Linked DNA regions of Homo sapiens. The protein of the gene in region 2 interacts with the protein of the main gene of each other region in a pairwise test. Each region holds a gene or a part of one and is shown on either strand. Other genes may lie near its edges. The genes, in order: KIF16B, PRKAA1, TOMM34, MORC4, PLEKHA4 and RAD54B.

What was found.
Region 1: the proteins of PRKAA1 (region 2) and KIF16B interact in a two-hybrid assay, tested with the Homo sapiens proteins (one large-scale study listed by BioGRID and IntAct).
Region 3: the proteins of PRKAA1 (region 2) and TOMM34 interact in a two-hybrid assay, tested with the Homo sapiens proteins (one study listed by BioGRID).
Region 4: the proteins of PRKAA1 (region 2) and MORC4 interact in a two-hybrid assay, tested with the Homo sapiens proteins (one large-scale study listed by BioGRID and IntAct).
Region 5: the proteins of PRKAA1 (region 2) and PLEKHA4 interact in a two-hybrid assay, tested with the Homo sapiens proteins (one large-scale study listed by BioGRID and IntAct).
Region 6: the proteins of PRKAA1 (region 2) and RAD54B interact in a two-hybrid assay, tested with the Homo sapiens proteins (one large-scale study listed by BioGRID).

Annotation. Positions count from the first base shown.
Region 1 is NC_000020.11:16,570,649-16,574,893, forward strand, and holds the start of KIF16B (kinesin-like protein KIF16B), read right to left. Parts: upstream 2,801-4,245; 5' UTR 2,628-2,800; coding exon 2,581-2,627; intron 1-2,580. UniProt on the Homo sapiens protein: Plus end-directed microtubule-dependent motor protein involved in endosome transport and receptor recycling and degradation.
Region 2 is NC_000005.10:40,760,375-40,763,874, reverse strand, and holds part of PRKAA1 (5'-AMP-activated protein kinase catalytic subunit alpha-1), read left to right. Parts: exon of another isoform or gene 1-852; coding exon 853-1,097; 3' UTR 1,098-3,500. UniProt on the Homo sapiens protein: Catalytic subunit of AMP-activated protein kinase (AMPK), an energy sensor protein kinase that plays a key role in regulating cellular energy metabolism.
Region 3 is NC_000020.11:44,957,598-44,961,547, reverse strand, and holds the start of TOMM34 (mitochondrial import receptor subunit TOM34), read left to right. Parts: upstream 1-1,150; 5' UTR 1,151-1,214; coding exon 1,215-1,341; intron 1,342-2,010; exon of another isoform or gene 2,011-3,211; intron 3,212-3,240; exon of another isoform or gene 3,241-3,255; coding exon of another isoform or gene 3,256-3,304; intron 3,305-3,950. UniProt on the Homo sapiens protein: Plays a role in the import of cytosolically synthesized preproteins into mitochondria. Binds the mature portion of precursor proteins. Interacts with cellular components, and possesses weak ATPase activity.
Region 4 is NC_000023.11:106,976,213-106,979,712, forward strand, and holds part of MORC4 (MORC family CW-type zinc finger protein 4), read right to left. Parts: intron 1,988-3,500; coding exon 1,868-1,987; intron 473-1,867; coding exon 372-472; intron 1-371. UniProt on the Homo sapiens protein: Histone methylation reader which binds to non-methylated (H3K4me0), monomethylated (H3K4me1), dimethylated (H3K4me2) and trimethylated (H3K4me3) 'Lys-4' on histone H3. The order of binding preference is H3K4me3 > H3K4me2 > H3K4me1 > H3K4me0.
Region 5 is NC_000019.10:48,841,118-48,844,617, reverse strand, and holds part of PLEKHA4 (pleckstrin homology domain-containing family A member 4), read left to right. Parts: intron 1-3,307; coding exon 3,308-3,469; intron 3,470-3,500. UniProt on the Homo sapiens protein: Binds specifically to phosphatidylinositol 3-phosphate (PtdIns3P), but not to other phosphoinositides.
Region 6 is NC_000008.11:94,405,616-94,409,115, reverse strand, and holds part of RAD54B (DNA repair and recombination protein RAD54B), read left to right. Parts: intron 1-1,395; coding exon 1,396-1,677; intron 1,678-3,500. UniProt on the Homo sapiens protein: Involved in DNA repair and mitotic recombination. May play an active role in recombination processes in concert with other members of the RAD52 epistasis group.

The DNA.
Region 1 (4,245 bases), on a different chromosome or scaffold from region 2:
ACTGTTGGGAAGGTTATCAACTAGCCTTGTCTTCAAGACCAAGGACACCATCTTATTCTCATCATCCTGGCAATATTTGACACTAACCCCCACCACCTCCTTCAGGATGCTCTTCTCCCTTTCCTGCCATGACCATTTGCTGTGCTGGTTCTCCTTTACGGACTGCAAGCCAATCTTCTCCCTGAAATCCTAAAGAGGGGCATATCCCAATGTCCAATCCCTGGCTCCCTTTTCTTCTCACGTAACATCCTTAAATTGTGGTTTATGTGCAAAAGATTTCCAAATGTCGATCCTCAAATCACCTGAGACCTAAACCCACATTTTCAGCTTTCTGCTGAACATCTCTAGCAGAGGGATGGATGTCCTTCCCACACTTCAGATAATGAACAAGGTCAACATGCGTGAAACACTTGCTCTGTGCTTGTACTTGACACTTAATACATCTCATGTAACTCTCCACATCCAAGAGAGAACATACCAACTTCATTGTCCACCTTCCTCAAACCTGTTCACCTCCTTCAGCATCAAACCTCAGTTAATGACTCTACACTCGCATTCTTCCCCCTTCTTCCCATCCAGTGAGCTGCCAAATCCTGCCAATTCTGCCAGTGAGTGGTCTTCCTGTAACTATCCTGCCTTCCAATTTCATCTCTGGCTCAAACTGCTAATCACCTGCCTCTTACCTCAATCTTGACACCACCAGAGTTCTCTACTGAGAATATAAATAACATCACGCGAATCTGCCTCCCCAAAGCCCATGGCCTCTGGACTTATTTCCTGCCATCCCTCCATGTACCTGGGCTCCAGGCCTACACTGGCAAGGCACTGAACTCACAGTTCCTGTCCCAGCAGGCCCAATACTTCACAAGATTCATGCCAGTACATAATCCCTCTCTCACCATGGCTCACCAGGTCTCATTCCCCTTGTATCCCAGACAGCACCCTGAGGAATGCTATGTGTTTGGTAGGTGCTTAACAAATACTTTTTTTTTTTTTTTTGAGAGGGAGTCTCGCTCTGTCACTGATGCTGGAGTGCAGAGGCACGGTGTCGGCTCACTGCCAGCTCTGCCTCCTGGGTTCACACCATTCTCCTGCCTCAACCTCACGAGTAGCTGGGACTACAGGCGTCCACCACCACGCCCGGCTAATTTTTTGTAGTTTTAGTAGAGAAGGGGTTTCACCGTGTTAGCCAGGATGGTCTCCATCTCTTGACCTTGTGATCCGCCCGCCTCGGCCTCCCAAAGTGGCTCCCAGGCATGAGCCACCGCGCCCAGCCTAACAAATACTTTCTAAAGTTACACAATACAATTTTCTAGCATGTGTTCACCTTTTTCCAAAAAAGAAAAAGAACTTCTATACACATGAAAATCCATAATAAAGAAAAATCGTTCTAAAGTTTATCTTCTATGATGGAATGTACACAGAAACAAAAATATTCCCTTAGAGCAAAAAAGTCAAACTCTTACTCTAAACAGCTTTAGAAATAACTCAAAAGTCACAAAAAGCAGATTCTGAAAACACTGGGTTTTAATGATTACAAACCAAAATAATGATTCCCTACTTGCCAAGAGAAGAAACAGATTTAGATGAGTCAAATAAGGTTCTGGAAATCTTTTGATTTTATGGCCTTCGGCTGCCCCAATCAGGCATCAGAACTACCAAACATTAACCTCCACAAGTTGATATGACAAAAGCAAAAAGGCCCTATGGTAAGTCAAATATCCACCAACTTGGTAGAGAAGTCAATAAAATCAAATGGCTCTGTGTGAACCTTGCCTGTCACCTTGGAGGACACATCCCATTTCTACCTCATTCTTTGAAGTCAAACCAATTTAAAAAGTAACTTTTCCAAAGAAACTTTCTAAACGGATTAAAAAGAGGTCATTGAAAAGGGAGCACAGGCTATTTTTCAGTGAATGAAGAGAAGGATTCTGAAAAAGCATTACTTCGTAGAAATATATAACAAGATTAAATTTTGTGTGTAACACTCTTCCTCTCTCTTAATATCAGAGTATTTCAAACACGTGTAAAGCGTCCCTGACTTTTTTCTAGGAGTCAGGACTTTGTCAAAGTTTTCCCATCCACTCTCTAACATGAAGTTAGGAACTGCTAAGTTATCGATTAGACATTCAGGGAATCAAAATCATCTCTAACTGAAAGATTAAAAAGTAGCATGGTTAATTGTTAAGAGAACTTCTGAGTTGGTAGAAATGAGGGGTTCACCTGACAGTTCGTGGTGCCCCCCCTCAGCACTCTCACCTTCCCCCCAACTATTTTACATCTTCATGGTAACGTTCCCTTGATGCTTTTTTAAAGGGGGAACAAGAACATCTCAAGTTAATACGATGGAGAGAGTTAATAGAATCTTCTCCTTTACCACCAGGGTCCTCTCCAGGGCAATGTGAACGGGACAGCAGTGCACGAAGTCCTCCAGGCCCCCAGAGGCCACAGCCTGGGCCCGGTGGGCCAGGGACCAGCCGGTGACACTTTTAAGTCCAGGCTGGCTTTGGGGGAGCTGGAAACAGGCTTCCTCTGGGTGGGGGCGCGACGAGGGGGCGGGGCGCGGGCGGCCCCACTCACCTGCGATTCATGGGCCGGACCCTCACGGCCACCTTGACCGATGCCATCGCTCATCCCGAACCAGCCCGCGCGGGGTCCCACTAGCCCAGAACTCCGCGGTCGCCGGCGACGCTGGCTACTCAGATCGCGGCTCCCGCCCACTTCCCTCTCGCCCCCGCCCCTCTGCTCCCGGCCGGACCTGGAGTTCCGCGGCAGCCCCACCTGCCAGGCCACTGAGCATGCCCAGAACGGCTCCGGCCCGCGTGATCCATGCGCCACGGTTTGGCGGCGGCCGGGCGGTGCAGAGGGGCGGGGCCGCGGGGCCTGGAAGCAGCCTCCGGGATCTGCAAGTCTGGAAAGGCCACGTTGTGGACCTTGGCGCAGAGGTTATGGGGGCGACCCGGAGCGGATGGTTTCAGGAAAACTAGAACCCACCCTCATGGCCTGAACAACTGGAGAGAAGAGGATCGCAGCAATTTAAAGCCAGCGGCAAGGATCACAGTCCTGGGGTCAGGTGACCAAAGCCAGTTTTTCAGCCCTTAACAAGAACCTGGCTTCACCCAGCCAAACATGAGTTAACGTATCCATTTTACACACGAACAAACTGAGGCGCAGAGATGATCACAGCTTGTTGGTGGCAAACTCCGCTAGGGCCTTCTCTGCTACCCTAAGGAGGTCCGACCGTATGTTTTGGACCCCTTAACTCGGGATACCGATAAACGAAAATTAATAGGGTGTTGGATGTTTTAAATGTGTGCGGGAATGTCATTATATTGGCTAGAATCAAACCTTATTTAGACTTGTTTTGCACTTTTGTACACTTTAGTAATTTTTAGTTTTAATCATAAGGGAGTTAAAGGCGAACACAACTGGTATTTTTTTTTTTTTTTTTTTTTTTTTGAGACAGGGTCTCGCTCGGTCACCCAGGCTGGAGTGTAATGCTGCGATCTCGGCTCACTGCAACGTCCGCCTCCCGGGTTCAAGAGATTCTCCTGCCTCAGCCTCCCGAATAGCTGGGCGTGCCACCACGCCCGGCTGATTTTTGTATTTTTAGTAGAGACGGGGTTTCACCATGTTGGCCAGGTTGGTCTCGAACTCCTGACCTCAAATGATCCGCCCGCCTTGGCCTCCCAGAATGCTGGGATTACAGGCGTGAGCCACCGCGCCAGGCCGACAACTGGTATCTTAAGGCTTAGGGCCTCTGGTAGAAGTGAGCTCCACCTCCCTTCCTGTGTAGAAGGTAAATGCATTCATTCATTCAGTGAATCGAGCATGCATGAAATCGTTTGCGCACACCCAGAAGCCCACCTGCGAGCCACAGGAGCAGCCATTCCAGGAAGCCAAGCTATAATGGGAGACGCAAGGAATGGAGGCGGAACTCCTGTTTTTAAGTCCTAGCTCCAACACTAGCCTTGTCAGCCTGTAATTCTGAATTACTGGGCGCCTCTGAGGCTTCTTGTCTCATCTGCAAATCAGGAACAACGGCATAGAGTGGTGAATGCATCAAGTGGGATGATGTCTGCAAGTACGCAACCCGCTTACACAAAGAATTATCTTTCCATAACCTTCCCTGGACCCCTAGGGCCAGCAGGGAATCATAGCCTCCCTTTGTTTCTAGAGCCCGGAAATCACTGGGTTTTCCCTCTGTCTGGAGCAGAGCTGGGTGCGAATTTGACCAACGGGTGG
Region 2 (3,500 bases):
ATTTTTTTCTTCTTTATAAACTCAAAGATAGTACACACATAGTAGCAGAAAGACACAGGTTTGAGCCATGATATGTTGGCCAAACCAGTTTGTCTGGTTATCTTTAGGTCCATATAGTACGTATCTGCTAACATATACTAATGCAGTCTGAAATACGGAATGAGTTTTATTTTTCTTGTATTTGGATCAAATTTGCAACCTTAGATTTACTAGTACTGGGGTATACCAATTGAATGCCCATTTTGTTTTTGTACTGTGTTCCCAACCTTAGTTTTTCTTCGATTTTTATTCATTGGAATTGTTGCTCTTTTATGAAATACTAAATGAAATATGAAGGGAAAGTGGAAAGTAAAAAGCACTGAGCTGAGACTTAGGAGAGTTGGGTTCTAGACTTACCTTTCTGTTCATTTGTTACCTTGGGCAAGTCATTTCTCTGGGTTTGTTTTCTTATCAATAAAGTGAGGGGCTGGATGAGATGGTTTCCAGTATACCCTCCAAATTTTAAGTGCATCGATTCTATGATTTTAATATAGAGGGATTACTTTTTATTGCTATAGAATAATATTTATTAATCCCTAGATTGTTGGTTTACTGGGCTCTTAACCTTGGATTGCAACTGATGAGTAGCTATACTGTACCCAACTTTGGTTAGCTATCTTGAGAATACATACTATATGTAAAAAAGATGAATAGTTTAATACAGGCTCATTGACTGTTTTAGAAGGTATTTAGAATAAGCGTGCTCTTGATAGCTGGCCAGCAGCCCCACTTAAAGAAGCAAATTCAATACTGTTACAAAAATTTTTGGGAGAAGGTCATAGACTATAATAAATTGAAATTCTTTTTACCCAGATGAAATTACAGAAGCCAAATCAGGGACTGCTACTCCACAGAGATCGGGATCAGTTAGCAACTATCGATCTTGCCAAAGGAGTGATTCAGATGCTGAGGCTCAAGGAAAATCCTCAGAAGTTTCTCTTACCTCATCTGTGACCTCACTTGACTCTTCTCCTGTTGACCTAACTCCAAGACCTGGAAGTCACACAATAGAATTTTTTGAGATGTGTGCAAATCTAATTAAAATTCTTGCACAATAAACAGAAAACTTTGCTTATTTCTTTTGCAGCAATAAGCATGCATAATAAGTCACAGCCAAATGCTTCCATTTGTAATCAAGTTATACATAATTATAACCGAGGGCTGGCGTTTTGGAATGCAATTTGCACAGGGATTGGAACATGATTTATAGTTAAAAGCCTAATATGCAGAAATGAATTAAGATCATTTTGTTGTTCATTGTGCAGTATGTATATAGCATAATATACACAGTGAATTATAGGTCTCAGGCTTACTTGATTTTTGGCTATTTTATATTTAGTGTACACAGGGCTTTGAAATATTAATTTACATAAAGGCCTTCATATATTATTACGTGTTATATATTACGTGTTATAAATTTATTCAATAAATATTTGCCTAGAATTCCCAAGACCTTTATAGGTGATTTTGTTTTCTGGGCTCCTTAACTTCATAAATAGCTAGTATCTTCCAGCAGTAGTAACAGTCTGGATAACTTCTTCCATATCCCTCCCTCTTTGTTTTTTTGAGACAGTGTCACTTTGTCACCCAGGCTGGAGTGCAATGGTGTGGTCTCGGCTCACTGCAACCTCCACCTCCCGGGTTCAAGTGATTCTCCCGCCTCAGCTTCCTGAGTAGCTGGAACTACAGGCGTGTGCCACCACACCCGGCTAATTTTTCGTATTTTTAGTGTAGACGGGGTTTCACTATGTTGCCCAGGCTGGTCTCGAACTCCTGACCGCGTGATCCACCACCTCAGCTTCCCAAAGTGGTGGGATTACAGGCGTGAGCCACCGCACCCGGCCTCCATATCCCCCTTTTAAAATTCTGTAGTGTATGGTAAGTCATATCAGATATCAGACCTAATTTAAATTTCATTTTAGCTTTACAAGTCCAAAAACACAGAATTTATATATTCAGATACTCTAGCACTAATTTTAGTCTTAAAATATTCCCACGATATTCTGTACACAAAATGTTCTTTTTGTTACAAGAGCTGAGTTGCATATACTGTAGATAAATCATATTATTTTTGCCAATTTCACAAATTCCTCTGGCCCATCATGTCAGTCATTATTGAGTATATGCACACATTGCTACTTATTTGATTATGTATCTTTTAAATTGATTCAGTGCATAGAAAACTATCTCTTACAAACTTTAAGTGCTCTGATATGACTTCCCCCCCAAATTTTATTATGAACATTTTTAAAAACAGAAAAATTGAAAAACTGTTTGGTAAGCACATGTATATCTACCATTTAGATTCAGCAGTTGTTAATGTTTTGTCATTTGTTTTCTCTATACCTATATATGTATAGATACAGCTAGTTATGCATATATATGCATATATGTGTTTGTTTGTGTATGTATATATGCTTTTTTCCCCCTGAACCATTTGGATGTTACAGACATACTTATCACCGTGAAAATACTTCAAGTATCTCCTACAGATAATGACATTCTCCTAAAAATCCGTAATACCATTGTAAAAGTAATAATTCCCCAATATCATCTAATCAAGCCATATTTAAATTTCTGAAGTTAACTCCAAATTTCTTTATAGCTGATTATTTCAAACTAGGATCCAATTAAAGTTTACATATGACACTTGGTTATAACTCTTTAGTTGGATATAACATTATTATTATTTTGATAAAATATGGAACAAATCAATTCTATTAATAAGTGGTCACATTTGTTTTGGGCTTAAATTACTTTTTAAAGATACTGGATTTTCCTAAGATTTCTGATTTACACTGATATTTTTTTTTGTCATTCTTAATTGCATCACACAATAGATGTAAATGAAGATGTAGTCACCTCAGATAAAATTGGTATCGTGTATGATAATATTGTATCATTTATATTTGCCTTATGTTAACTTTAAGAAATTGATTTTTTTGTATTAATCATTTTCCCATTGCAACAGAGCTATATTTTTTCTATTTTAAGAATCATATTTTAGGATTATTTTTGGCAAATACAGTGAGCACTTATGTAACCAGATGATAATGAACTCAAATGTCATGATAGCTTGCATAAATGGTGACTCTAGTAGATTTGACTCAAGCACTTCTAGAATCATGCACTGAATTCAAAAGAAAAATCTTGCTGCTTTTTGTCCAGGGCTTGTTCTATTCAACTTCTAATTTGAAAGCTGTACAAAGTAATAGAAGTTCCATTTAAATATGAGTTCAAAACTGTATTTACTTTTTATGTGGCCCTCTCTTTAGGGGATTCTAATTTTACTTAGGGTCTCTAAGTGCAGCATAATGTTCCTGATGTTAACAGAAGACTGTATTTTTAAAGTTACAAATTTGTATATGGAATTAAGTAATGGCGCTATATACGCTGTTGTGGGGAGGGGGGAAGAAAAGGAGGAACCAATTAAATAGGACCTTTTAAAAATTGTTAATTTT
Region 3 (3,950 bases), on a different chromosome or scaffold from region 2:
AAAAAAATCCAGGAGAAGGAGATAACAAGCAAAGGCTAGGAAGCAAGAATTTAGTGTGTGTAGATAGCAATGCGTGGGACATAGAGTCGTCAGATGAGGCTGGAGATAAATTGAAGTCACACTCTGTGAAAGATCTTCATCCATTCTGAAAGCTGATCATACGAATTGGGTCATTCTTGTCATATCCAACTAAGACAGAATTGAAAAGCCAGGGGAACAAATACTCAGGGCATATAACATTGCTCCAAAAAAGTAATTTTTTGCAAGCCTGGCTGCTAAAACTGCCTGCTGTAACCTAAAACCAGTTTTATCTAATAGCTACTGAAACAGCCTGCTACAATTCTGAGTTTTATCCACCACTATCACTTACCAATCAAAGCTTGCCAGCTCCCCAAGAAGCTGATAAACCCCCACTTTACTAGTGCCTGTAAACTTCCTTGAAGAGCAATATGTAACATTTCTGTTTTATAAAAATCTCCAAACCTTCTCTTTGTTCTTCTGACATACCAAAGACAACCTGGTCTGTGTGTAAGCCCTGAATTGCAATTCTTGATTGCCAAATAAAATATTTAAACTTTAGAGATTCATCTCTATATGTTGACTTTGACACCATCAATCCACCTGTGCATTAATTTATTAAATAAATATCTATAGAGCACTAGGTACCAGGTACTTTCTAGCCTTGGAACCTTTGCACTTACCATCCCTCTGGCTGGAACAGCATTCCCTAAATCTTGTCTGGTCTCAGCTCAACTATTACCCCCTGAGAAAGGCCTTCCTTCATCCCCTTATTTAAAATAGCCCACACGTGGTCACTTTCCATTGCATTATCCTGTTTTGTTTTCCTTACAGCACTAATCACATGAAATGAGAGTCTTCGTTTGCTTATCAGTTAATTGCCTGTGGGGACCCCACTAGGACATAATCTCCCTGATAGCGGGGCCAGCCTCCTTCCCTGCGTCATCCACGGCGTTCTAGCAACTCAGGGAGCCCAGAGCATGCTGCCGCCCCGCGTGCAAGGGAGCCTAAGTTCCAAACCGAGCACGCGCAGAGGGCGGGACGCTCCGGGCCTCCAGGTCTCGCAGGCCCCGCCCCCTCGCCGCGGGTTCGCTGTTGGGCGGAGATATTCGCCGCCGGCGCTTGCGCCCGGAAGGTGTGCCGCACCACACGGGGGAGGAAGGAAGGAGCTCCCAACTCGCCGGCCTGGCCACGGGATGGCCCCCAAATTCCCAGACTCTGTGGAGGAGCTCCGCGCCGCCGGCAATGAGAGTTTCCGCAACGGCCAGTACGCCGAGGCCTCCGCGCTCTACGGCCGCGCGCTGCGGGTGCTGCAGGCGCAAGGTACGACCCCGGCCCCCATCTCACCTCCGGGCCTGCTCCTCCAACTCCCGCAACCACCGCCCGGGCCTCGCGCGGCGGCCAGCAGTCCTGCCCGGCCCTCCCACCCTTCCAGCCCCTTCCGACTCCGGCATCCTACCAGAAACTTCCTCGGCCCTTTCTTTCCACCTGCTTGTTAACTGCCCTGTTGGCCCCCATCCTAAGTTATTTAGGCCTCGTTCTGAGCCCTGAGAAGAAAGCTAAACCCTCCTCCCCCGCAGCAATTCATTTTTCAGTTAGTATTTGTTGAGTAGCTGTTATATACCGCCTGTGTAACAAGACACAAAAAGTCCCTTCTCTCAAGGACAGCGCATTCTTGTGGGGGCGGTGGGGAGGACGTGAGTCTTAAGCGAGTCAGTAAGTAAACGAGACCTGTGGGATAATCAGGGTTAGGAAGAAGACAAATAGGGTGATGTGATAGAGTTGACTGGAGTGGGAGATCAAGGGCAACATCTGTAAAGAAGTGATATTTGAGGTGATGTCTAAATGATGAGAAGCCAAGCGCACAAGGTTTTCGGTCCTGAAGTGAACTGCAATGAGAAAGGCCCCCCCTCCAAGACGATATAAACATGGTGTGTTTCAGGGGTCAAAGCATAGTGAGCCAGGGCAGGGAATAGGAAGACATGAGGTCAGTTAGGAAGGCAGACCCTTATTTATTGTGGAGGTGTTGTAAACTCTGCTAAGGAGTTCGGATTTCATGCCAAACTGGAAGCTTGGCATGAAAGCTGCTGGATGGGAAGCTACTGGAGAGTTTGAAACAGAAGAATAGCATATTCTTACCAGTTCTCCCAGCGTCCAGCTTTCGTCAGCATACCGCAGACCTTTGCCCAAAGCCCCTTCTCCAGGGTGACTTAATCAGAAACCCTCATTGGTTAAAGCCTTGACTTTTGAAAGGAGCCTTGGATCCTGGTTTCTGTGAGTCACCGTTCAGTACCTATTTCCCTTTGCCGCCTTCCTTTTTTTCCTTTTCTTGGCTAGCATCTCTTGAGTGATTTACCATGTGCTAGACATTTTAGACACGATCTCCTTTGATCTTTATTATGGCCCTGTGGATAAAATGCTTAGAAAGGAGGAGTCCAAGAGAGTTAAATTGGCTCCCTCGGGGTTACATAGTGAAGACATGGAAGAGCCACGATTTGAATATGGATCTGTTTGACTTTGATGCTAAGTCCAAATTTTTAATCATTTTGCTAGACCTCTCCTCACATCCTCTCCAGATTTCATTCTTTTTTTTTTTTTTTTTGTCTGCACTTTTTGCAGTTTCAAGCCACTCCTTTGCCCCCTTCTTTGTTCTAGAAAACTCTCCTTTAGGCCCACTTCCTCATGGCAGCCTTACTTGATGAAGTTGCTGAAGAAGCTGAGGTATTGATGTTGCTGCCATTTTCATTCATCTCACCCCAGCTGGTCTGGAAAAGCTTGTACATTTGTATGGGTTAATTCTGGGTCCATAGAAAAGCTAGCCTGGTATCTAGATTTAGCAAGGACCGGAGTTTGGTTCTGCTGCTGCTACAGATTTCCTAGGTAATTTTGGGCAAGTCTCTTGATTTATCTGATCAGTCTTCTTGATCACGAAGAGAGCTCAGGGAACAGGCTAACACAATGAACCCTTCCAGCAAGTCTATGAAGTGATATCCTCATGTGGTAGGTGGGCACGCATGATCAGAGGGATGGAGTGACTTGTCCGGATCGCAGGGTTGATGCCCTTTCCACCGCACCACTGCTGTTTCTGAGCAACCGTACTCTGGTGACTCAAGATGGATTACAGGTTTTGGGTACTTAGCTCCTTAAGGGCAAGGATGTATTTTACTAGTCTTTGTACTTTCCGTCTCTGGGCCTGGCAAAACAAGAGGGGAAAACGCTTGTTATTGTTGGTATTGAATGAAAGATATCAAATATCAACATGGCAACAGGATACTGAGTGAAAAAAGTAAGTTGCAGAAGGATAGGCAATATGATGCCTCTTAGGAAATGCTTTAATAGACATAAAATGGTATCTTTCCTGTTAACACACACACACACACACACATATATATACATATACATATATATACATGTACATGTATACATATATACATATACATATATACATATATATGTAAATGTAGAACATGCTTGAAAATGTTACATACCAACTTCAGGATTGTACTGGCCTCTGTGAGTCTGGGGAGGGAGCACAGGGATAAGGATGGGGATGGCTGGAGTTTTAGCTTATCAAAAAAATTTTTAAGGGTTGGGTGCCATAGCTCATGCCTATAATCCCAACACTTTGGGAGGCCAAAGCGGGAGGATCACTTGAGGCTAGGCATTCAAGACCAACCTGGGCAACACAGTGGGACTCTGTCTCTACAAAAACTTTAAAAATTAACTGGGCTTGGGGGTACACACCTGTAGTCCTATCTGCTTGGTAGGCTGAGCTGGGAAGATCACTTGAGCCCAAGAGTTTGAGGCTGCAGTGAGCTATGATTGTGCTACTACACTTCAGCCTGGGCAACAGAGGGAGACGCTGTCTCTAAAAATTAAAAAAGTTGGGAACTAATATAACGTGCTAAATCTAGTGGTGGATTCTGAGATAA
Region 4 (3,500 bases), on a different chromosome or scaffold from region 2:
AAAAATTTTTGGAACAAATTTCAAACTGCTTTTTTTTATCCAATGTATTCCATAACTTCAGATCCATTCATCTGTTTCCATTAAGATCAATTCCAAAGCTTTTCATTTCCCCAGAAATCTTTTACCAAATTACTCCTATGCTCTTTGCATAATTTCTAAAGGTAAGGTTTATCTCAACGAGACTCCATATATCATTCAGCAAACTTTAATTTAAAAATGAAAGCATTTTATCTCTAATCTTGGAAAACAAATTTGAAGTAATTCTCAGTTAACTTATTTAGCTGCTTTTTAGAGATGGTTTTAGAGGCTTTAGAGAACAGAATCATATCTGAACAAACTAACGGAAGCACCTCAGGTTGGGAGTGACTCACCGGTACTCCTTGGTATACTCAAAGTCTTGTTTGTTGTAGGCAGGTTTTAGGAAATTGCACTCAATGACTCCAATTACTCCTACACCTTCTCCACGAGTTGGCTTAGAAGAAAATATTAATTTCAACACTTACATTACTGTTGGCTGCCTGGAGGCATTTCCTTTTGATTCCAAACAATAATAGAAAGGTTACATAACCTTCATGGGCAAGAAAAGACCATCAAGATCTAGAGAAACACTTAGAATGTACATCAACAGACTGCAAGCATTAAACTGAACTAGAAATTCTGACAAATTCTAGGGCAGAGATTTTCAAAATATGATCCATAGATCCCTAGGAGTCTTCTGCAATTAGTAGCCATCTCTACTTCACCCACACTACCTCCACTTTTATCTGCTTTATATTCCAGGACTGCCATAAGACTGCATTTGAATAAAGAATTACCGTGCTAAAAAACCAAGGTTATATACTACTGTTCTAAGGAACTGAAACAAATATTCATCTGAAAACAATTTTAAGGGTTCTGTGTGATCCTATATTAAAATAAACAATTTTCCCACATACATAGGCCACCAAACAACTACTAAAGAGTCACACTTACAGCAATTATTAATTACAAGTTGACGCAAGAGTTTTATAGATTTAAATCATATTCTAATTCTTTAATGGAAGAAACTAAGTAAAGGTGTAATTGGACTGGAACACAAACACGAGTTGTCTAAAGGTGCTATAACAAGGGAAAACAAAATAGGCTGAAAACGAGCTATCCTGGGCTTTATATAACTGTCTTACTATGTTGAAGCAGTTCATCATTTTTTGTGCTTTAGCAATCTTATCTGTAAAATAGGAATAAAAGGGATACTTGTAGACATTACTACTTTAAATAATCATTAAGACATTAAAGATGATGGTAAAATTTGTATAGAGTGGTTTAAAAAATATTTTCACATAATTTATCCCATTTAAATCTCTCAACCCTGTAAGCTGTGAGGCAGGCAAAGCAGGTATGCTTATTATTGTTGTTTCCACTTTACATAAAGGTCAGGAAATTGAGCTTCAGATAAATTAAACAATTTATCCAAGGTTACACAGCTTGTAAATGGAAAATTCAGGACCCAAATCCTGGTCTTCAACCACCATATTTTATATGCCTTCCACTATGCCTTATTGTCTCTCCAAGAAAATGGAGTTACCTAAAACACAAATAAGCTGACACACATGGTAAGCTTGCTGGTATTCTAATTCTGCCTCTTATTGACAGCTACTTAGAAAATGCATTCAGTAAAGTTGTTGGGTTGATTAACAGCTGAAGAATGAGAGTTAGAAAGAGATTTCAACACAAGACAGCTCACTGGTAACACAATTCCAGGATCAGAATTCAATAAGCATCATAAGATGGGAGTAAAAGCCATTAATGAGCCTATCCCCTTTGCAAATTTTAAATTCTCTTCCTACTCTTTTCAGCCTCCTATGACAAAGAAATATTAACTACTCACCTTCACCTGGCACCCCACCTTCTCAAAAGATTTTATGAGTCGGTTGTTATGATACATCATTATTCCAAACTGGTTACTATTCTTGCAAGAGAACCCAAAGGTGATTCTCACCTGCTTATTCTGAGAAGAACATCGTTAAGGAGACAAACATACCAGGGGCTTCAACGACAAAATTTTACACCATATTATAGCAAAAACCATCAAATACCAAGGGACATAAATTGGTACAACCTTTTTGCGGGCATTTAAACATCTGTTGCAATAGCTTTAAGAATATTCTTAATATTTGACCAAGTAATTCTCTTTTTAAGAATTTATCCCACAGAAACAGTCAGGGAGGCCCACAAACGTTAAGGAATTACAGAGGTTTTTCAATTTGTTATAAAAGCAGAGAAACAGAAATAATTTAAATGTTCAACAATAAAGAAATGATTAAATAAATGTTGATATAGCCATATGCATCTCTTTTAAAATTATGTCCTTGAAATATTTGAGAATATCAGGAAACGCTCAGATTATAAAAACATCACACACACACACGCACACACACACACACACACACATGCATAGAAAGACTGTAAGAAAAGATACCTAAATACCATCAGTGATTTAAAAATTGACAAATAATCATAAAACATTTCTTAGCCCTTGCTAGTTGCTCAGTTTGCTGCTAGGGCACATAGGTTCTGATAAGAGCTGTAAATGGTCCAATACAAATCTGTACAATTATATCCAATAAGGTAAATCCTTCTTACCATACCAAACACAATGAAAGCAAAAGCAAAGGTAAAGAACAATGAATAGTCCTGTAGTGATATATTTCATGGGAAGAAGTTAACAAGCTTGGATAAATGAAATGAAGACAACTGATTATTATAAGTAAAACATGAATAATGATGAGTTTTTAACAAGTCCTACTTAATTTAAAAACCAAGGTAAGTAAGTGAGAAAGATAAAGGGGAGATAGAGAAACTGAGATTTTCATTAAAACAAATACTAAGAAACCTTCATGTCTAAATGAGTTGAATGAAAATTTACTTTTGTTACTTATTCAAAAAATGATCTCCATGCCCCCTCTAAAAGACAAGCTACTTGCATCAAAACCCTATAACAAATGGGTCACATATGATACAAAGACATGACTCAAGTGGGTGCATAACACAGTAATGTTTGGCTCAGAATATATAATGTTCTGGGCTCTAGCAGTTCATATAAAACCTCAAATAAGACCTATTCTAACGCAAAAACAAAACAAGACAAAACTCCTGCAAGCAAACAAACCAAAATCCTATGCCATAAAATTATCTTTGTAAAGATAAAGACTGTCAAATTTTTCTTTCTGTTGTGCACTTTTAAAATTCTAAATTATGGAGTGAGGGTACAGTGGGGTAGGAGACACCAAATTAGCATAAGGAGAGAGAACAAAGATGAAAGAAGTGGCCTTTGATAATTGAGAAGTAAGTAAGTTAGTATCAATGATCTTGTTCCTCAGTGACCTTGGGGGAAATTTTATTAGGACTTTCATTTTACTCATGTCTACAGTAAATCTGTTTAGTCCAAACTATAATATCGGAAGGTAATTTGGTTTAATGGGAAGGGAGTCTGAGAAGAGTCGAGGTAACATATAGAATGC
Region 5 (3,500 bases), on a different chromosome or scaffold from region 2:
AGTACGGATCCATCACTGATTGGCCAGCCCTCAGAAGCATGTGACCATCACTGATTGGCTGATTTTCAGAAGCTTGGCTCCATCACTGATTGGCTGGCTTTCAGAAGTCTTTGGGGTACCTGTTGGGATTACTTGATCAAATAGATTTAAAAGCACTTCTTGGGGCTGGGAACCGTGGCTCGTACCTGTAATCCCAGCACTTTGGGAGGCCGAGGCAGGCAGATCACTTGAGGTCAGGAGTTTGAGACCAGATTGACCAACATGGTGAAAACCCTGTCTCTACAAAAATACAAAAATTATCCGAGCGTGATGGCGGGTGCCTGTAATCCCAGCTACTTGGGAGGCTGAGGCAGGAGAATCGCTTGAACCCAGGAGGCAGAGGTGGCAAAGACCCAAGATTGCACCGTTGCACTCCAGCCTGGGCAACAGAGCGAGACTCTGTCTCGAAAATAATAATAATAATAATAATAATAATAATAATAATAATAATAATAATAAAATAAATAAGGCATTTCTTGGCCAGTGGTATTGGCTCATGCCTGTAATCCCAACACTTTGAGAGGCCAAGGTAGGTGGATCAGTTGAGTCCAGGCGTTCAAGAGCAGCCTGGCTAACGTAGCAAGACCCATCTCTACAAAAAAATAATAAAAAGTTAGCTGTGGCCAGGTGCAGTGGCTCACACCTGTAATCCCAGCACTTTGGGATGCCGAGGCGGGTGGATCACCTGAGGTCAGGAGTTCAAGAGCACCCTGGCCAACGTGGCAAAAACCCATCTCTACTAAAAATACAAAAATTAGCCGGGTGTAGCAGCACGCACCTGTAATCCCAGCTACTTAGGAGGCTGAGACAGGAGAATCGCTTGAACCTGGGTGGCTGAGATTGCAGTGAGCTGATACTGCGCCACTGCACTCCAGCCTGGGTGACAGAGCAAGACTCCATCTCAAAAAATAAAAAAATAAAAAATAAAAAGTTAGCTGTGCGTGGTGGTGCCCACCTGTGGTCCCAGCTGCTTGGGAGGTTGAGACGTGAGGATTGCTTGAGTCCAGGAGGTCAAGCCTGCACTGAGCCATGATTGCACCACTGCACTCCATCCTGGGCAACAGAGGGAAACCATGTCTTTAAAAAAAAAAAAGAAAAAAGACCGCGTGCGGTGGCTAACGCCTGTAATCCCAGCACTTTGGGAGGCCAAGGTAGGCGGATCACAAGGTCAGGAGTTCGAAACCAGCCTGACCAACATAGTGTAACCCCGTCTCTACTAAAAATACAAAAAAATTAGCCAGGCGTGGTGGCACATGCCTGTAATCCCAGCTACTCGGGAGGCTGAGGCAGGAGAATCGCTTGAACCTGGGAGGCAGAGGTTGCAGTGAGCCAAGATCGTGCCATTGCACTCCAGCCTGGGCAATAAGAGTGAAACTCCATCTCAAAAATAAAATAAAATAAAATAAAATAATTTAAAAAAAAGAAGGCATTTCTTGTGCTTACTTGTTATCATGGATACAAAAGCAATCGAGCCTTTCCTAGGAAGAGAGGAGAGGCACTTTTTGATTCTCAGTGGTGTGTCATGGGCATGGATGATTGGAGCCTGCTGGGAACATCACTTATCTTGGGACATGCTCCTCCCTCACCCCAACCGGGTGGTTTCAGGGGCTGCCAAGGTCCAGAGCACAGGGGTGGTCTAGTGAGTTCCAGGGATTTCAGGGTTTAGCAAAGAAAAAGCTATGACCACCAGATGGCAGTAGCACACAGGAGCTTTATTTGGTGGACACTGACAGATTTGTCTATGGGGGAGTCACACCCAGTGTGAGACCCTCCAGAGGTTACTGTGTGAGGGTGAGGACCACTGCACAGGAAGGGAGGAAGGCAAGGGAGCTCCCAAGAGAAAGGGACTGGAGAAGGGGCTTACTTCTGGGTGATGCCAGCCACCAGCATGTGGAGGTTTCTCTGGATCAGAGAGGTCCAAAGAGCAGCAGGGGCTTGGGGCTCATCTTATCTATGGGTAGCAGATGTTGGGCACAGTTTCAGGGTATACAAAGCAGGCAGACTGCATAGCTAAAAATACCTGCTTATTAAGACTATGTTTAAAACAATTGGATGTGTAGAAATCTGAGTGTGCTGCTACCAAGCTTTTAGGCCAATGGTCTGGCCTGCTGTGAAGAAATTAACAACATTGGCTGGGCGCGGTGGCTCACGCCTGTAATCCCAGCACTTTGGGAGGCCGAGGCAGGTGGATCACGAGATCAGGAGTTCAAGACCAGCCTGGCCAAGATGGTGAAACCCTGTCTGTACTAAAAATACAAAAAAATTAGCTGGGCGTGGTGGCGGGTGCCACCTACTCAATCCCAGCTACTTGAGAGGCCGAGGCAGAGAAGTGCTTGAACCCAGGAGGCGGAGGTTGCAGTGAGCAGAGATTGCGCCACTGCACTCCAGCCTAGGTGACAAAGCGAGACTCTGTCTCAAAAAAAAAAAAAAAAAAAGAAAATAAATTAACAACATAGGGTAATATACAGTGGCCACTGGCCATCATTTATATAAACAGGACTCAGGATTGGTCAAAGCAGAGGAAACTGCAGGGACTGGTTCTACAATAAGCACAGATCCATGCTATCTCACTGGGATGTTTAACTGGAAGCTTCAGCAATGAGTGCTCTCTCTGTCTTTACTTTTTACTTTTAGATACGGGATCTTGCCCTGTCACCCAGAGTGAGGTGCAGTGGCACGATCATAGCTCCCTGAAGCCTTGAACTCCTGGGCTTAAGTGATCCCCCTGCCTCAGCCTCTTGAGTAGCTGACAGGCATCCACCACCACATCTAACAAGTTTATTTTTTGTAGAGATGGGGTCTTGCTATGTTGCCCAGGCTGGTCTCAAACTCTTGGCCGCAAGTGATCCTCCCACCTCAGCCTCCCAAAGCTCTGGGATTACAGTCACCCACCACTGCACCCGGCCTTCTCCCTCTCTCCTTGTTTAAGCAACATATATATATATATATATTTGAGACAGAGTCTTGCTCTGTTGTGCAGCTGGAGTGCAGTGGCGTGATCTCGGCTCACTGCAACCTCCACCTCTGGGGTTCAAACAATTCTCCTGCCTCAGCCTCCTGAGTAATTAGGATTACAGGTGCCTGCCACCACGCCCAGCTAATTTTTGTATTTTTAGTAGAGATGGTATTTCGCCAAGTTGGCCAGGCTGGTCTTCAACTCCTGACCTCAAGTGATCCTCTCTACTCAGCCTCCCAAAAGTGCTGGGATTACACGAGCCACTGTGCCTGGCCTAAAGGTTGGGTCTTGGGACGTTTCTCGCCTCCCTAGGCCCCGGTGGCCCGGCCCCGGATGAGTGCCCAGGAGCAGCTGGAGCGGATGCGCAGAAACCAGGAATGTGGACGGCCCTTCCCTCGCCCGACCTCCCCCCGGCTTCTCACCCTGGGAAGGACACTGTCCCCAGCCAGACGCCAGCCTGACGTGGAGCAAAGGGTGAGGGGAGGAGGGCTGGGGCTGGGCGGTG
Region 6 (3,500 bases), on a different chromosome or scaffold from region 2:
AAAGATAGAGGTGCTAAGAAAACTGAAAGCTGGAATGCTAAAATTGCTAATAGCTTGTGATAATGCATCAGGCTCAGTTGGCCATCATTGCATAATACCTAGGAAAAAAAAAAAACCAGTATGTGAAACAAAGTTTAAGAGTAAAAGAAAAGCTTCTAGCGACTGAGATGTTTGAAAGAGTCACCTTTGGATCAAGATCATCTATGGATCTAAATGAAATGAGAGATCTTGGAATTAGAGCTACTTTAAAGGTACCTCAAAGTTAAAAGGTTATTCTTGTCTTCCATTTCCATGTAAAACTGAGATTAACAGTAATTGGATTTTATGTGAAGATAAAACTATAATCTTCATTAATTTGGATAAGTGAAGACCAATACTGATTTGGGATGGAGTGATGGGTCTTTGACATTGAGCTAAGTAATTTCTTCCTATATCAGAGCATTACAATTAAAAAGTATTCCACCATAAATAATTTAAGACTATATATTAAATACAGATTGGCACAGATTATAAATTTTAGGCCAGTTTCAGTAGAGAAAATTTTAGTAATTTTCAACTACTTGAAAAGGGTCATCATATTTTCTAAAATGTGGCAGTCTTTTATTATTATTTTTAGAGACTTAAAAGTTTCTGGTATACACAGCTCCTTTGCTTGGTAATGGCACAATAACTACACATTTAATAGTTTAATGCATTTAATAGACAAGCATGGAAGTCTAAAATGCCATCTATGTGGTTAGTGAACTCATTTTAAGCAGCCCATGACTGACTTATCCATACTTATATTTCATCAGCACCTTTACACAGCAACACTTAATAAATGTTCATCAAATTAATAATAATTCAAACAAGCTTAATATTACAAAATATTCCATGTTTTATTAAAGAGTTAGAACATGGAATATCTGTGACCTCTTGCCACAACTGTATTTTAACTTTGCTATCTCATGTGGAACAGTCAGTACTAGTTGTGGTAGCAGTTGCTTTTATTGCTAGTTCTCCTTCACATTTCTAGCTGTTTCTAAGTGAAAATAGAGGTACCATGATGTTTCTGTAGTTTATTTACAAGAAAGGAGGATACATATAGCCTATCAAACTATTTTCTTGGCTTAATTTTTCCGGACAAGAGATGGCAAAACTATAGAGTACAATAATCTATATTTTCAATAGTAAAAAAATTCTTGCTTTCTCTAAAGCATGGCTAATTTGATAGCTGTATTATTTCTTTTGATTTTCAATGTTTTTTTTAACCAAAATGTTAAATTATGCTTCCATTTTGGCTAATGCATTATATAAGACTATTTACATTCAAAGTGCAGTTTTTTTGTACAGTTACGGGAAGGTGACCGTGGTATCATAGAGTGTCAATTAATTTTTTTCTTTCTTAACTTAAAGGCATTGGTTATAAATTCAAAGAGCTTGAAAAGATTGAAGAGGGCCAAACACTGATGATTTGTGGAAAAGAAATAGAAGTCATGGGTGTAATCTCTCCAGATGACTTCAGCAGTGGCAGGTGTTTTCAGCTTGGAGGAGGAAGTACTGCTATCTCGCATTCTTCTCAGGTTGCCAGGAAATGTTTCTCTAACCCTTTCAAAAGTGTTTGTAAACCAAGTTCAAAGGAAAATAGACAGAATGATTTCCAAAATTGCAAACCACGCCATGACCCATATACGCCAAGTAAGATTTTAAAAATAATTTGAATTTTCTGTTTTTACTGTCAAAATGTTTTTTGTGTGTGAATTTGAAGTTTAAATTTTGTTTTAAAAGTTTTAGGTGAAAGTATACATTATTCTTGAGATATATAATCTGACATAAGAGATAATGTTGAAGTCAAATAACAATATAGTTTGGGAATTATTTCATATGTAAATGAATAATTCTAAGAATACAGTAATAAAAATACTGTACATGTGTTGAAGGAAACATATCTAAATTGTATGTGTATACATTACACATACATGTGTATAATTTTGAATAAAATCTGACTTTTTAGTAAGGAGAGAAATTAGTAAATGTATTAATCTGGACTATGATTATACTTCTAATTTGAGGACTGTATGCCTTGATCACAAGCATTAGTGTGTAAAAATATTGAATGGTAAGATTTCATGCAAAGTCCAAATTTTACTAGTGAAAGTTCCATTCAATCAGTTAATTTTCACACTGATGAATGCAATTTTAAAAATCACATTAAAAAAAAAGAAACCTAGATTGTATCTGATTGTTCTTTTGACTGTTCACTCAGCAGGTATTTCTTGATTGCCTTTTATGGGTTGGGCCTAAAGATAAAACTGTCATCACAGAGCTTCTCATTTGGTGAGGGGAAGGACAAGTAATCCGAATCAAAGTATAGTGTAGTAGATGTGAAAGTTGAGACATAGAGGTGACTTCTTTCCTCACAACAGCAAGTATATAAAGTAATGATTATTTTTCCCCATTGCAAGTATTATGGAAACATAAGTTTTGAAGTAAAGAGGCCTTTGAGATCATTTAGATTCGTCTCTTCACTTTGCATTGGAGAAAACTGAGGCCCAGGAAGATGAACCGACTTACCTAAATACAAATAATCAACGGCATTATTGGGACAAAACCCCACAATTAAAAATTCTGAGTTCTATATTAGCTTATCCCAAAGACTTAGTTGAAATACAGGCAGTGGAAGCTGATGCAGCTGAATTTTCTCTTTTTGTCCAAATATTTTGTCTGTCCCACCAGCTCTTTTAACAATCCCCCTCCTCTTTATTCTCCTTTCTCTTTGTACTTTTACTATTACACAATACAGGGCTGTGGGGAACTGAAAAGAATACTGTGCTTATTCAGAGATCTGAGTAAGAATCATGGTTTTGCCACTGAACTAACTGGTTCTTTGACCTCTTGGGGGTAGTCACTAACCTTCCTAATGTTTTGCCTACTCATGTGTAAAACGTGGGTCCTAATAACCACCGTAGAGATTTAGAGTGTCTAGTATATACTCTTTCCAGGAAATACTTGTTGAGTGAGTGAATGAAACATTTTATTGTGGCATTTATGTGTTGTGTGTATGTGATGTAAATGTATATATATGTGTACATGTGAATTTTATATATATGTGTGTGTGTGTGTGTGTGTGTGTAAAAGCACTTCAGGTAAATAGTAAATGGTTAATTATTCTTATGTATTTATCTTAGCCAAGGATAGAATTAGGTTGTAGACTTTAATGCCTCAGACATGTTGTTAATATTAAATGATCGTCTTCATCATTGTGAAGATAAAGAAACATCTTAAAATTTGAACTAGTGTTCTATGATTTTGACTGTTTAGGTTTCTCTTTCTTGAAGATGGGCCTTTTATTAGGTGATTTATAATCCTATAGTCCTTTTTGCTTGGGCAGTATGTGATTTTTCACCTCTATCTTCTCTTTTTCCTTGTTGTCCTTTTTAAAAGATAGAAAAATAACGGGGCCATTTCTTGACTGGAAATCCACAAGGAGCACACTCTTACTTTGCTACAGTGATATAGAG